Linked DNA regions of Homo sapiens. The protein of the gene in region 1 interacts with the protein of each later gene in a pairwise test. Each region holds a gene or a part of one and is shown in the gene's direction. Other genes may lie near its edges. The genes, in order: HAVCR2 and CEACAM1.

Region 1 (8,021 bases):
GCATGCATGTAGTCCCAGCTACTTGGGAGGATGAGGGATGAGAATTGCTTGAACCAGGGAGGCCGAGGTTGCGGTGAGCTGAGATTATGCCACTGCACTCCAGCCTGGGTGACAGAGTGAAATTCTGTGTCTAAATAAATAAATAAATAAATAATGCCTGAGTCTTATCAATATTGCTAGATGTTTGTAGAACTCATTAGGGTCCTGTGAAAAAAACAAAGCACATATTTAATGTAGGACTTCCTGGCAGAAGTCTCTATTTCATAAAACAGTACGGTTCATTATCTAGATGAAAAAATGTGGCCATCCTAAAGTTGATTCCTGGGTGTTCAGTAAATTTTGTCTGTCTCTCCATTAATTATTGTGACAAGTACGGAGTAGAATTCATTTCAAATAGGATTATAGGCATCATTAAGATTTTTTAAAAACTTAGATAAAAGAAAACGTTCTTAACTATACTATTGGCTATTTTTCCTCTCTCTCTCTCTCTCTCTCTTTTTATAGCAGAGACACAGACACTGGGGAGCCTCCCTGATATAAATCTAACAGTAAGTAACTTTTTTTGTGAGCTATGTTGTACTCAACTTGGAGGGGAAATCATGGCTTTAGACTTCCTTCATGCCCACCTTGTCCTTGGGGTAAAAAGCCTTAAGTTCCCTTAGCTTCAGATTCCTGGGCTGTAACATGTTGATGATGACAGTTCTAACCTCATAGGCCTGCTGTAATGAAGGACTGACATGATGTGTGTAAAGTGCCTGGCATATAGTAAGAGCTTGAAAACCACAAAGAAGAAACATTAGCATTTTGTCCCTCTTATTCTTCAATTTCACAACTGTCTACCCTGTGGAAGGTTCAAAGATTCTTCATCTCCCTAGAATACCATTCTTCTTGCTTCCATTGCAATCCTAATGGGAAAGAGTATTTAAATTTATCTCTTTAAATATGGCAAGACACCAGTCAGGAATATTCAAAGTGAAGAGGTTTTTTTTTTTTTTTTTTAGACAGAATTTCGCTCTTGTTGCCCAGGCTGGAGTGCAAGGGTGTGATCCTGGCTCACCTCAACCTCCGCCTCCCGGGTTCAAGCGATTCTCCTGCCTCAGCCTTCCGAGTAGCTGGGATTACAGGCATGAGCCACCACACCCGGCTAATTTTTTTATTTTTAGTAGAGACGGAGTTTCACCACATTGGCCAGGCTGATCTTGAACTCCTGACCTCAGGTGATCCACCTGCCTCGGCCTCCCAAAGTGCTGAGATTGCAGGCGTGAGCCATGGCACCTGGCCTAATTTTGTATTTTTAGTAGAGACAGGGTTTCTCCATGTTGGTCAGGCTGGTCTTGAACTCCTGACCTCAGGTGATCCGCCCAACTTGGCCTCCCAAAGTGCTGGGATTACAGGCATGAGCCATGGTGCCCAGCCAGTTTTATGTATTTAACTATAAATAAAGCCATACCTTAATAAACCTCAATTTTACTGTCCCTGCTACCTTCTCAGAATAAAAGAAAAACTGGCTGGGCGCAGTGACTCACGTCTGTAATCCCAGCACTTTGGGAGGCTAAGTAGGGTGGATCACCTGTCAGGGGTTTGAGACCAGCCTGGTCAACATGGTGAAACCCCATCTCTACTAAAAATACAAAAAATTAGCCAGGTATGGTGGTGTGTGCCTGTGTAGTCTCAGCTACTCAGGAGGCTGAGACAGGAGAATCGCTTGAATCCAGGAGGTGGAGGTTGCAGTGAGCTGAGGTCGCGCCACTGCACACCAGCCTGGGCAACAAGAGCGAAATTCCCTCATAAAAGAAAAACCACTAGAAGGCAAGCTTGCAGCAATGACTTAAAAATTCTTTGAGGAGGCCGGGCACAGTGTCTCATGCCTGTAATCCCAGCACTTTAGGAGGCCAAGGTGGAAGGAATGCTTGAGACCAGGAGTTTGAGACTAGCCTGGGCCACATAGTGACACCCTGTCTCTACAAAAAATATTTTTTAAAATTTGGCCAGGCATGGTGCTGCAAACCTGTAGTTCCAGCTACTTGGGAGGCTGAGGCAGGAGGATCACTTGAGCCCAGTAGGTTGAGGCTGCATTGAGCTGTGATCATGCCCCTGCACTCCATCCTAGGTGACAGGGCAAGGCCTTGTCTCAAAAAAAAAAAAAAAAAAAAAATTACTTGAGGGCATATCCAGGAGCCCACATTTATTTGACTCAGTTTCTTGCTTGTGTATTCACAACTGATGCTCAGCATCTTGTATTTGCTCCTTCTCTCTTTGCAATCAAACAGTGCTTTTTAAGGACCTGTATGTGCCCACAATGCTTAATGCACAATATCTTGCATATAGGACTCCTGTTATTGCAGGAGTAATGTGTATTGAATCAATTTGTAAATGTATATTGAATAAATGGAAGATTTAACTTCCTTAAATTCATTGTTTTAAAAATGCTTATAATTATATGTGTGTGTGTGTGTGTGTGTGTGTGTGTGTGTGTGTTTTGTATAAATGGGGTCTCAATATTATTAGGCTGGTCCCTAACTCCTGGTCTCAAGTGATCCTCCCATCTCAGCTTCCCAAAGTGCTGGGATTATAGGTGTGAGCCTGGCCTATAATTATTATTTATTTATTAATTTATTATTTATTTTTGAGATGGAGTTTTGCTCTTGTCGCCCAGGCTGGAGTACAATGGCACAACCTTGGCTCACTGCAACCTCTGCCTCCTGGGTTCAAGCGATTGTCCTGCCTCAGCCTCCCAAATAGCTGGGACTATAGGTGCCCGCCACCACACCTGGCTAATTTTTGTATTTTTAGTAGAGATGGGGTTTCACCATGTTGGCCAGGCTGGTCTTGAACTCCTGACCTCGTGATCTGCCTGCCTTGGCCTCCCAAAGTGCTGGGACTACAGGCGTGAGCCACCGCACCTGGCCTAATCATTGTTTTTAAAGAGAGAAAAAGAGAGAACCCATAGACTGAAATTTTAGAAACAGGATTTATTTTGTGTGGCTCTCAGTTATCAGAAAATCAAGTTAACTAGAGCAATAGCAATAATAGCTACGATTGATTGAACATTTATTATGTACCAGGCCCTGTACTAAGCATTTTATATTTTCTCTCACTTAGTTTTCCTGATAACTCTACAGGATTACTCAGCCCTTAGTGGCAGAGCTGGGAATTTTTTTTTTTTTTTTTTTTTTGAGATGGAGTCTCGCTCTGTTGCCCAGGTTGGCGTGCAGTGGCATGATCTCAACTCGAGTACTCCAGTCTTTGCCTCCTGGGTTTAAGTGATTCTCCTGCCTCAGCCTCCCCACTAGCTAGGATTACAGGCATGTGTTACCACGCCTGGCTAAGTTTTGTATTTTTAGTAGAGACGGGGTTTCACCATGTTGTCCAGGCTGGTCTCAAACTCCTGATGTCAGGTGATCCGCCTGCCTAGGCCTCCCAAAGTGCTGGGATTACAGGCATTAGCCACCGCGCCCGGCCTCAGAGCTGGGATTTGAATCCACGACCGTCTGGCTGTAAAGTCTTGGCTATTGAATCACTGTCTTTTTGTGAAAAATAGACGTTTCATAGCAAGACACTAAATGTAAACTACTCTAAAACTCTCTGGGGAATCTTAGGGGATCTTGAACCAACAAGACTCCACTCTAAAGCCAATTTTTGCAGGGGCAGGGAAAGGGTCTTAAGAGCTCCTTCTCTCTTTTTTTTTTTTTTTTTTTAAGAGCTCCTTCTCTACCCACAACACAGAAGGGCACATTTTGTTTCCTTGCTAACTCCAAAGGTTAAGGGAGACCCTTTCTTGGGTTGGCTTGAGTGTTGGCTACAAGGTGACAGATCAAAGGTGATTTGAAGGACTCAGCCATCCTGTGATGTTGTAAAAGGGATGGTCCAATTCACAAATCTTGAAGCTGATTACACAAGCGATTTCTAGCTGTTTTCTGCTTAAATCCTGTTTGTGTTTCCATAGCAAATATCCACATTGGCCAATGAGTTACGGGACTCTAGATTGGCCAATGACTTACGGGACTCTGGAGCAACCATCAGAATAGGCATCTACATCGGAGCAGGGATCTGTGCTGGGCTGGCTCTGGCTCTTATCTTCGGCGCTTTAATTTTCAAATGTAAGTGTTTTTGTTTCTCTCTCCCTCTGATAACAAATTCTTCAGTGAGAACCAGTAAAAACCTAGATAGAAATGCAAATTCATGTTTATACCCAAAGATGATTAGACTAAATACCCTTTTGTCCATCCAAATCCTAACAATAATGGCTAATTTTTATTTAATATTTATTGTGTGTCAGGCAGCCACTGCGTTAAATGTTTTACATACATTTTATCATCATTACTGTCTTATGAGATAAGGAATAGTACCATCCCCATTTTACAGTGAAGGGAAGTCAAGCTTAGAGTAAGCTGCCTTCCCGAGGTTTCAACATCAGTACCTGGCAGAACCGGAAATCAAATCCAGGCAGGCTGATTCCAGTAAACTAATTTCTTTAATTCATGAATATGTCTAGGTTTGTTACGAAACACAACAACAAAAAACACTTCCTTCTGTGCACTTTTCTGTTATTGGTTTCTCAGGCATACCTCTCTGGCAGTAGACTGCAAGTCCCTTTAACACTGGGTCGTGACTGGGGTTAGAGAATGTTTTCCTCCATCATGGTACTTAGCACATAGCTTTTTCTAAGTTACTTATCCCTTTTTTTTTTTTAAACTAGCAAACAAACAAAAACAAAAAAACAGGCCCGGCGCAGTGGCTCACGCCTGTAATCCCAGCACTTTGGGAGGCTGAGGGGGGTGGATCATTTGAGGTCAGGAGTTCGAGACCAGCTTGGCCAACATGGTGAGACCCCATCTCTACTAAAAATACAAAATTAGCCGGGTGTGGTGGCGCATGCCTGTAATCCCAGCTACTCAGGAGGCTGAGGCAGAGGAATCACTCAAACCTGGTAGGTGGAGGTTACAGTGAGCTCAGATCATGCCACTGCACTCCAGCCTGGGTGACAGAGTGAGACTGTCTTAAAAAAAAAAGTAATAAAATATAAATAAATAAGCAAATAAATAAATAAATAAATACAATGGCCAGGTGCAGTGGCTCATGCCTGTATTTTCAACACTTTCGGAAGCTGAGGTGAGAGGATCAGTTGAGCCCAGGAGTTTGAGACCAAGATCAGCCTGGGCAGCAAAGCAGGATCCTGCCTCTACAACGTAATAATAATAATAATGAGCTGGGCATGGTGGCACACACCTGTAGTCCCATCTACTCAGGAGGCTGAGGTGGGAGGATCACTTGAGCTCAGGAGGCTGCAGTGAGCGGTGATTGCATCATTGCACTCCACCCTGGGCAACAGAATAAGACAGTCTCCAAAAAAAAAAAAAAAAAGAAGTGTGTTGAAGTTGATGAATTTTGATGGAGAATTACAGTAGGAAGCCATCATCACAATCAAGATCTAAATACTTCCAGTACCCCCAAAACCTCGCACACTTTTGTTTTTTTGGAGATGGACGCTGGAGTGCAGTGGCACGATCTCAGCTCACTGTAACCTCTGCCTCCCGGGTTCAAGTGTTTCTCCTGACTCAGCTTCCAGAGTAGCTGGGACTACAGGCATGTACCACCACGCCTGGCTAATTTTTATATTTTTAGTAGAGACAGGGTTTCACCATGTTGGGCAAGATGTTCTTGATCTCCTGACCTTGTGATCCGTCCACCTCGACCTCCCAATGTTTTGGGATTACAGGCGTGAGCCACTGTGCCTGGCCACTCACACACTTTTATAATTGTGTCTATTTTATTTTCTTTTAGGGCAGAAACCAAGTCCTTATGCCCCAGAGCGTAATATGACATAGCAGCCTTTCTTACTAATACACAAACAGGGACTGTGTGTGTAGAGTGAGCAATCACCTCAGATTAGCTCAAGACTAAAGGGTGTTCCTAAGATATATGGGACTTCTAGGGCTAAAACTGGAACAGTCCAAGAAAAACATGAGTTGGTCCCCCCACTAACTGTGGACTGAAGCTGCCAAGTGCTTTACGTGCATTAAATTCTCGTAACTACCCTATGAGATAGGTACTAATATGTTTCTAATGGAGAATCAGCATGCTAAAAGGTTAGGTCACTTGCCTGCATTTACACAGTTAATTGATAGATACTGGATTTGAAACCAGGACTGTCCTGCTCCTCATCTTTATGGTTTCTGCGATTATGGTTAAATGGATTATTCAGAAAAAGAAACTACCCCACCCACACTTACCTGGGTTTATTCAGAGATAGCCATGGAATTTTTGAATTGATCACATGAATATATATATATGTATATATATGTATACACATATATATATATATTTATTATTATTGGGACAGAGTCTTACTCTGTCACCTGGGAGCTGGACTACAGTGGTGTGATCTTGGCTCACTTCAACCTCTGCCTCCTGGGTTCAAGCAATTCTTGTGCCTCAGCCTCCCAAGTAGCTGAGATTACAGGCATATGCCACCACACCTGGCTAGTTTTTTTTTTTTTTTTTTTTTTTTTTTTTTTTTTTTTTTTGGTAGAGACAGGGTTTTGCCATGTTGCCCAGAAAATTGGTCTCAATCTCCTGAGCTCAGGTGATCCTCCTACTTCAGCCTCCCAAAGTGCTGGGATTACAGGCGTGATGAATATATACATATTTAAAAATAGAGGCTGAGCACGGTGGCTTACGCCTGTAATCCTAGCACTTTGGGAGGCCGAGGTGAGTGGATAACCTGAGGCTGGGAGTTTGAGACCAGCCTGACCAACGTGGAGAAACCTCATCTCTACTAAAAATACAAAATTAGCCGGGCATGGGGGCACATGCCTATAATTCCAGCTACTCGGGAAGCTGAGGTGGGAGAATCACTTGAGCCCAGGAGGCGGAGGTTGCAGTGAGCTGAGATCGTGCCATTGCACTCCAGCCTGGGCAACAAGAGTGAAACTCCATCTCAAAAAATAAATAAAATAAAATAAAATAAAAATAGAAATGAGATCTTGCTATGTTGCTCAAGCTGGTCTCAAACTCCTGGGCTTAAATAATCCTCCCACCTCAGCCTCCCAAAATGTTGGGATTATAGGCATGAGTCATTGCACTTAGCCTCACTTGAGTATTTCCAAAACAGACTAGGGATTGTTAAGGAGCACTGATAACACTCACTACTTTTTTGACTTCTGCCATGGCTCAAAGTAAAACTTTGAGCTTTACTATTATATATATTAGAGACCACTTTATATATATATGTGTGTGTGTATATATATATATATATATATATATAATATGACCATAATTTATACATATTAGCACTTATTCTAGTTTGTATAAAGAGTGATGGGATCTAGAGGAAATCTGATGCTTTGTACACACACATATATGCCACTCCAAAAAAACATGGCTACTGAGAAGTACAGATAAGAAAGGCCTGTTTCATTTCCAATCTTTTCCCTGGAAGTTGCTGGAGAAAATATTAAAATCAAGGTGACAGCTTTTTAAGTCATGACCTCACAAAAACAAACTGACACTCAATAATGCCCCACAATCTTCCATCTTTCTAGTGTACTCTCTGAGATGACCATCCATACCTCACTGCTGCTCAAAACTTCTTTGCCCCTCTCCTAACTGATGAAATATGAAAGGGCTTTTTAATCTCCATTGCCTAGGCCAAGACTTCATCCTTCTTTTTATCCCTTTCTTCTGAGTCATCTCTCTCCTTTTCTGTTTATGCTATTTTCATTAGCAGAATATATGTTCTAGTCCATGCATTCCTCTCCAGCTAGTCCCATTTCTCAACTCGTTCTCACAGCCATATTTTTCAAAGGAGTTGTCTCTACTTTTCACCCATCTACACTCCTTGACCCACCATCATCTAGTTTCTGCTCCAAAGCACAACGGAAATGGTCAAGCTCACCACTGACCTTCAGTTTTCTAAATTAAATATTAACAGATACCTTTATCTTTTTTTTTTTTTTTGAGACAGAGTTTCACTCTTGTTGCTTAGGCTGGAGTGCAATGGTGCAATCTTGGCTCACTGC
Region 2 (8,021 bases), on another chromosome or scaffold:
GCCCCAACCCTATTCTCAGTAGGTTATCTCAGATACTCTGCTTGTCCACAGAGCTAAGTCCAGTAGTAGCAAAGCCCCAAATCAAAGCCAGCAAGACCACAGTCACAGGAGATAAGGACTCTGTGAACCTGACCTGCTCCACAAATGACACTGGAATCTCCATCCGTTGGTTCTTCAAAAACCAGAGTCTCCCGTCCTCGGAGAGGATGAAGCTGTCCCAGGGCAACACCACCCTCAGCATAAACCCTGTCAAGAGGGAGGATGCTGGGACGTATTGGTGTGAGGTCTTCAACCCAATCAGTAAGAACCAAAGCGACCCCATCATGCTGAACGTAAACTGTAAGTGACTCCTCACCCCTTCCTATATGTCCCTCTAGGATTACTCTGTCAATGGTGTGCAAAATGGATAAAACTCACAGGAGGCAGAATATCAATGAAGAGACCATTATAGCAAACAGAATTGCAAAGTGGTTAAGAGCTCAGCTCAGGCCGGGCACAGTGGCTCACGCCTGTAATCCCAGCAGTTTGGGAGGCCAAGGCGGGCGGATCACGAGGGCAGGAGATCGAGACCATCCTGGCTAATATGGTGAAACCCCGTGTCTACTAAAAATACAAAAAAAAATTAGCCGGGCATGGTGGCGGGCGCCTGTAGTCCCAGCTACTCGGGAGGCTGAGGCGGGAGAATGGCGTGAACCTGGGAGGCGGAGCTTTCAGTGAGCCGAGATGGTGCCACTGCACTCCAGTCTAGGCAACAGAGCAAGACTCTGTCTCAAAAAAAAAAAAAAAAAAAGAGCTCAGGCTCTGAATCAAATATACATATACTTAGTTGGTTTTTTTTGGTTGGTTGGGTTTTTTTGTTTGTTTTGTTGTTTTGAGACAGGGTCTCACTCTGTCACCCAGGCTGGAGTGCTGTGGTGTGATCAAAGCTCACTCCCGCCTCAATCCCCTGGGTTCAAGCAATCCTGCCACCTCAGCCTCCAGAGTAGCTGGGACTACAGGTTGCACCACCATGCCTGGCTAAGTTTTTAAGTTTTTTTGTAGAGTTGGGGTTTCACTGTGTTGCCCAGGCTGGTCTCAATCTCCTGGTCTCAGCCTCGGCCTCCCAAAGTGCTGGGATTACAGGAATGAGCCACTCTGCCCACCCCGTATTTAACTATTCTAAGTACCTCTCATACAGATGGAAGCATGCAATATTTGTCCTTTTGTGTCTGGCTTACTTCATTTAGCACAATGTCTTCAAGCTCCATCTATGTTGTAGAATGTATCAGAATTTCATTCCTTTTGGAGACTGAATAATATTATGCTGTGTAGATAGATACATCACATTTTGCTTATCCACTCATCCATCTATGGACAGTTAGGTTGCTTCCACCTTTTGGCTATTATGAATAATGCTATTACAAACATGGGTATACAAATATCTGTTCAAATCCCTGCTTTCAGTTCTTTTAAATAGATACTCAGAAGTGGAATTGCTGGATCAAATGGTAATCCTGTTTAATTTTGAAGAACCATCATACCATTTTCCACAGTGGCTATACCATTTCACATTCCCACCAGCAATGCACTAGAGTTCCAATTTCTCTACATCTTCAAAAACATTTGTTGCTTTCTGGTTTTGTTTTGTTTTTTATAATGGCCATCCTAATGGTTATAAGGTGGTATATCATTGGAGTTTTGATTTGCACTTCCCTAATGATTAGCAATATTTAGCATCTTTTCATGTGCTTATTTGCCATTTATCTTCTTTGGAGAAATGTTTATTCAAGTCCTTTGCCCATGTTTTAATTAGGTTGTTTGGGGATTTTTGGTTGAGTTGCAGTAGTTCTTTATATATTTTGGATATTAATCCCTTATCAGATATATGATTCTCAAATATTTTCTCCCATTCTATAAGAAGTCTTTTCACTTTTGTGATAATGTGCTTTGATACACAAAAGCTTTTAATTTTCATTAAGTCCAATTTCTCTACTTCTTCTTTCGTTGCCTATGCTTTTAGTGTCATAGCCAAGAAATCATTGCCAAATTCAATGTTCCAAAGTTTTCACTCTATCTTCCAAGAGCTTTATAGTTTTAGCTCTTACATTTAGGTCTTTTATGCATTTTGAATTAATTTTTATATATGGTGTTACATAAAGGTTCAATTTCATTCTTTTGCATGGATATCCAGTTTCTTCAATGCCATTTGTTGAAAAGACTATCCTTTCCCCACTGAATGATCTTGGCACCCTTGTCAAAAAACATTTGGCTATGTATGCAAACATTTCTTTCTGGGCTCTATATTTTATTCCACTGGTTTCTATTTCTTTTTGCCAGTACCATACTGTTTTGATTACTGTAGCTTTTGGATTTTGTTTGTTTGTTTTATTGTTGTTGTTTGGGTTTTTTTGTTTTGTTTTGTTTTTTTGCTTTTCTTTGTAGAGATGGCGTTTCACCATGTTGCCAAGGCTGGTCTCAAACTCCTGAGCTCAAGCAATCCACCCGCCTCCACCTCCCAAAGTGCTAAGATTACAGGTGTGATGATTACCATAGCTTTGTAAAAAATTTTGAAACCAGGAAGTGTGAGCCCTTCAACTTTGTTCTTTTTCAAGATTGCTTTGGCTATCCATGGTCCCTTCAGAGTCTATATAAATTTTAGAATGAATTTTTCTATTTCTGCAAAAAATATTACTGGAATTTTGATAGAGATTGCACTGAATCTGTAGATCACTTTGGGTAGTACTGTCATCTTAACAATATTAAGTCTTCTAATCCATGAAAATGGGGTGTCTTTTCAATTTATGTCTTATTTAATTTCTTTTGGCAATGTTTTGTATTTTCAGGGTACAAATCTTTCACCTCTTTGGTTAAGTTTATTTCTAAGTATTTTTAAAGCTCTTATAAATAGAATTTTTTTCTTAATTTTCCTTTGAATTGTTATTAGTATACAAAAATACAACTGATTTTTGCATGTGGATTTTGTATCCTGCCACTTTGCTAAATTTATTATTCTAACAGTTTTTTTGTGGAATCTCTAGGGTTTTCTATATATAAGTTAGTGTATTCTGCAAACAGGTATAATTTTACTTCTTTCCAATCTAGATGCTTTTTTTTTCTTGCCTAATTGTTCTGTCTAGGTCTTCCAATACTACATTGAATAGAAATGGCAAAAGCAGGCATCCTTGTCTTGTTCTTGATCTTAAAGGAAAAGTTTTCAATCTTTCACCATTGACTATGATGGTAGCTGGGGGTTTTCACATGTAGCATTTATTATGTTGAGAATTTCCTTCTATTCCTAGTTTCAGTGTTTTTTAGCATGAAAGAATGTTGAATTTTGTCAAATGCTTTTATCGACTCATTTTCATTACTGGTTATAGGTCTATTCAGATTTTCTATTTATTCATGATTCTATCATGGCAGGTTTTGTGTTTCTAGGAATTTGTTCATTTCATCCAGGTTATCCAATTTGTTGGCATTCAATTACTCATAGTACTCTTATAATCCTTATTATTTCTGCAGAATTAGTAGTAATGTTTTACTTTCATTTCTGACTTTAGTAATTTGAATCTTCTTTCTTTCTTAGTCAATCTAATTAACAGTTGTCAATTATAGTGATCTTTTTTGAAGAACAACTTTTTTTTTTCGGTTTGAGACAGGTTCTCACTCTGTCACCGAGGCTGATCATGGCTCACCACAGCCTCAACTTCCCGGGTTCAAGCAATCCTCCTGCTTCAGCCTCCTGGGTAGCTGAAACTACAGACAAGCACTACCACCTCCGGCTAATTTTTGTAATTTTTTGTAGAGACAGGGTTTCACCATCTTGCCCAGCTGGTCTCAAATTCCTGAGCTCAAGTGATACACCTGCCTCAGCCTCCCAAATTGCTGGGATTACAGTCATACACCACTGTACCTGGCCTACAGTTATAAATTTCTTTCTTGCACAAGATTCTTAACTACTCTGAGCCTCGGATTCCTCAACCGAAAATTGCACTGTGAATGCCTGCTCCATAGTATTGCACGGGTTTGGGGTTTTTGTTTTGTTTTTGAGACAGGGTGTCACTCTGTCACCCAGACTGGAGTGCAGTGGTGCAAACACAGCTCACTGCAGCCTCAACCTCCTGGGCTCAAGCAATTCCCTCACCTTAGCCTCCTAAGTAGTACATACTACCACATCTGGCTAATTTATTTTTATTTTTGTTTTCAGAGAGACAGAATCTCACCATGTTACCCAGGCTGGACTCGAACTCCTGGGCTCAAGCAATCCTCCCATCTGTTTCCCAAAGTGCTGAGATTACAGGTGTGAGCCACCACGCCTGGCCCCATAGTGTTATTTTAAAGATTTAATGTAATAATAAACCTTCAGCAAAACACCACACACAGAGGAAATGTTTCATAAATGTTAGCTGCTATTACTACTACTATTATCATTAGCCTTGAAATCAGGTAGTCCTAGGGTCAAATCTCAGATCCACCTCTCACTAGCCATCTGACTTTAGGTAAGCCTTTTACCACTCTAAGCTTCCATTTTTTCATGTTTAAAATGGAAATAATGTCTACCTGACAGCACTATTTTATGGATCAAATAAGATACATGTAAAGCATTTAGCAGCACAGGGCCTGGCACACAGGAAGTACTCCACAAAAGTAGCTAACATAGCATTAGTCACCAGCCTGAGTTGACTGGTGAGGGTTAAGCCCCAAATAGTTGCAACAGATATAAACAAGAAATAGGCTAGACACAGTGGCTCACACCTGTAATCCCAACATTTGGGAGGCCGAGGCTGGAGGATCTCTTGAGCCCAGGAATCCAAGACCAGCCTAGGCAATATAGTGGAACCCTATCTCTACAAAAATTATTTTTTTTTAATTAGCCAGGTGGGTGGGCGTGGTGGCTCACGCCTGTAATCCCAACACTTTGGGAGGTTGAGGCAGGCGGGTCACCTGAGGTCGGGAGTTCAAGACCAGCCTGACCAGGATGGAGAAACCCCGTCTCTACTAAAAATACAAAATTAGCCAGGCGTGGTGGCGCATGCCTGTAATCCCAGCAATTCAGGAGGCTGAGGTAGGAGAATCGCTTGAACCTGGGAGGCAGAGGTTGCAGTGAGCCGAGATCACGCCATTGCACTCTAGCCTAGGCAACAAGAGCAAAACTCGGTCTCAAAAAAAAAAAAAAGAAAGAAAAAAATTAGCCAGGTGTGGTGGCATGTGCTTATAGTCTCAGCTACTGAGGAGACTGAGGTGGGAGGATCACTTGATCCCAAGAGGCTACAATGAGCCATGATTGTGCCACTGCACTCCAGCCTGGGTGATAGAGTGAGAACCTGCCTCAAAAAAAAAAAAAAAAAAAAAGAAGAAGAAGAAATAGATGCAAAAGGTATTATTTATATATTATATATATATATATATATATATATGGAGGGAGAAGCATTATACAAGAAACCCACTGGGACATGGCTATGATCAAATATGGGAAAGGGGGAAAAAAGGAGGTAAAGCAAAGTCTCAAGCCTGGTATGTTAGTTTCCATCTACTGAGATACAGTGAAGATGGGATTAAACATACGAGATAATTTATTGGGGAAAATGCCTGTGAGGGAAAGTAAGGCGAGAGTGAGAGGAACCTCAGACCATGATGCAGATCTGATTCCTGTGGAAGAGAAAGAGAGGAAGGAAGTTTTAGATTGAAGTGCAGTTTTTGTTTGTTTGTTTTTTGAGACAGAGTCTCACTCTGTTGCCCAGGCTTGAGTGCAGTAGTGTGATCTCGGCTCACTGAAACCTCTGCCCCCCGGGTTCAAGCGATTCTCCTGCCTCAGCCTCTCAAGTAGCTGGGATTATAGGCACCTGCCACCGCACCCAGCTAAATTTTGTATTTTTAGTAGAGATAGGGTTTCACCATCTTGGCCAGGCTGGTCTTGAACTCCTGACCTCGTGATCCACCCGCCTCAGCCTCCCAAAGTTCTGGGATTACAGGCGTCAGCCACCGCGCCCGGCCTGCAGTGCAGTTCTAAGAGCATTTCTGCAAGGCTGACAGGGAGTCCTCCAGCCATTCACACTTCAGAATAAAACAGTCACACAAAACTGGGCTAGCTTTCATACCCCTGCTGGGAGCCTGTGGGAAGCCAGTTCTCTATGCAAAAGAGGTGGTGAATTCAGAATGCACCAACTGCCACAACTGAGACACTGAGAAAAAGATGCAACCACGAAAAAGGTGGAAAGTTCTAATCACATACAAAATAGCAATCAGCCTTTCTCATATTTCAAAGCCTTAAAAATGGCTGAGCGCAGAAAAGCCAGGGTGGAATTGGCAGAAGAGAGATCATCAACCTAGAAACATGGTGACTGGGGTTGGGCGCAGTGGCTCACGCCTATAATCCAAGCACTTTGGGAGGCCGAGGCAGGCGGATCATGAGGTCAGGAGTTCAAGACCAGTCTGACCAATATGGTGAAACCCCGTCTCTACTAAAAAAATACAGAAATTAGCCAGGTGTGGTGGCACGTGCCTGTAGTCCAGCCTGAGGCAGGAGAATCGCTTGAACCTGGGAGGCGGAGGTTGCAGTGAGCCAAGATCATGCTACTGCACTCCAGCCTGAGAGACAGAGCAAGACTCTGTCTCAAAAAAAAAAAAGAAAAGAAAAAAAGAAACATGGTGATTGAAAAAAAAAAATTGCAAGGATATAGTTAGCTAATCACCTTCCAGCAACCTTCCCACAACGAAACTGTATTCCTTGAAGGAACAATTAGAAACTACTTCATTCTGAGAGTTGTTTCCCAGCCCCCATTGTAAAATAATTTCACTTTCATTTCTTCTCCTCTTTTCTCTCCATGACAGATAATGCTCTACCACAAGAAAATGGCCTCTCACCTGGGGCCATTGCTGGCATTGTGATTGGAGTAGTGGCCCTGGTTGCTCTGATAGCAGTAGCCCTGGCATGTTTTCTGCATTTCGGGAAGACCGGCAGGTATGATGGCCTTTCCTCTTGTTCTGTTTCCTCCAAGGCTGACTGCCATGCTTGGGAGAGGGAAAGAATTCTTTGCCTGTCTCTGGGCCTGGATCTCATACTCCTCCCACTAAACTCCTGCTTCTCGGCACTAATTCCCACAGGTTTCCTCTTCCCTGGTCTTCGTGCTCCCTGTCTCCCATTATCTCTTGGACATGGGTATTCCAATCCCCATCTAATCTAGAGGAAGAGACTCAAGTATGTTCCTCTGTCCCCTAGTCAGGGAAAGCAAGGTCTAAGAAGGAAAACAAATGAAAAAATGAAAGAAGCAGCAGGAGAAAGCAAGTCATGTGCTCTGTTGACCACATTGGAAGAGGAGGGAGAAATAGCATAGGAAGAGAACCTAAGAGAAAGCAAAAACAACCAAAGTCCTCTTGAACAATAAATAGAGAAAAAAAAAAAAGTATCTACCCCGGAAAACAAAATGGGAAAGGTTTTAAGGATAGAAGTAGGCACAGAAGCAGCTGATAAAGAATGAAATGAAATGTGAACATCCAGCAAACAGGAAAAGAGTAAACACTAGAAGGGATTGTAGTTAGACTGAAGAACGAGGCCCTCAGAAGAAAGGCAGTATGAACATCAAGGACTCTAAGGAATTACCTGCTCACAGTGTCCTTCCTAACTTACGGAACAAAGATCCTGTGCTTGGGAATAGCAGTCACAGTTTCTGATATTTATTTAGGGCAAGCGACCAGCGTGATCTCACAGAGCACAAACCCTCAGTCTCCAACCACAGTAAGTAAAGCCACTTACCCCAGTGAGAACTGGTATGTTCCACCACGTGCCCTCCCCTGGCAGGGAATCCTGGATTCCCAAACCACTCCCTCCCTTCTGAATTTTCACAGAAAGGATCTCTATTTCCCAACCCTAAGGTGGCATAGGTCTTCCCACCCTTCCTAGCCACAGGAGTCCCCTGAGACACATCTGAGGAGAGAGGCTCACTCTGCCTAGGCCAGGCAGGCCTGAGGAAGATCCCATGTTTCCAGGAGCCATTTCCTCAGCCTTACTCCTTCCGCCTCCTGCCTCTATTACGGATGTGGGCACT

What was found.
Region 2: the proteins of HAVCR2 (region 1) and CEACAM1 interact in binary tests that used the Homo sapiens proteins (3 or more experiments, as listed by UniProt).

The regions. Positions count from the first base shown.
Region 1 is NC_000005.10:157,091,385-157,099,405, reverse strand, and holds part of HAVCR2 (hepatitis A virus cellular receptor 2 precursor), read left to right. Parts: intron 1-504; coding exon 505-548; intron 549-3,946; coding exon 3,947-4,100; intron 4,101-8,021. UniProt on the Homo sapiens protein: Cell surface receptor implicated in modulating innate and adaptive immune responses. Generally accepted to have an inhibiting function.
Region 2 is NC_000019.10:42,511,266-42,519,286, reverse strand, and holds part of CEACAM1 (cell adhesion molecule CEACAM1 isoform 1 precursor), read left to right. Parts: intron 1-51; coding exon 52-339; intron 340-4,183; coding exon of another isoform or gene 4,184-4,276; intron 4,277-6,807; coding exon 6,808-6,937; intron 6,938-7,658; coding exon 7,659-7,711; intron 7,712-8,021.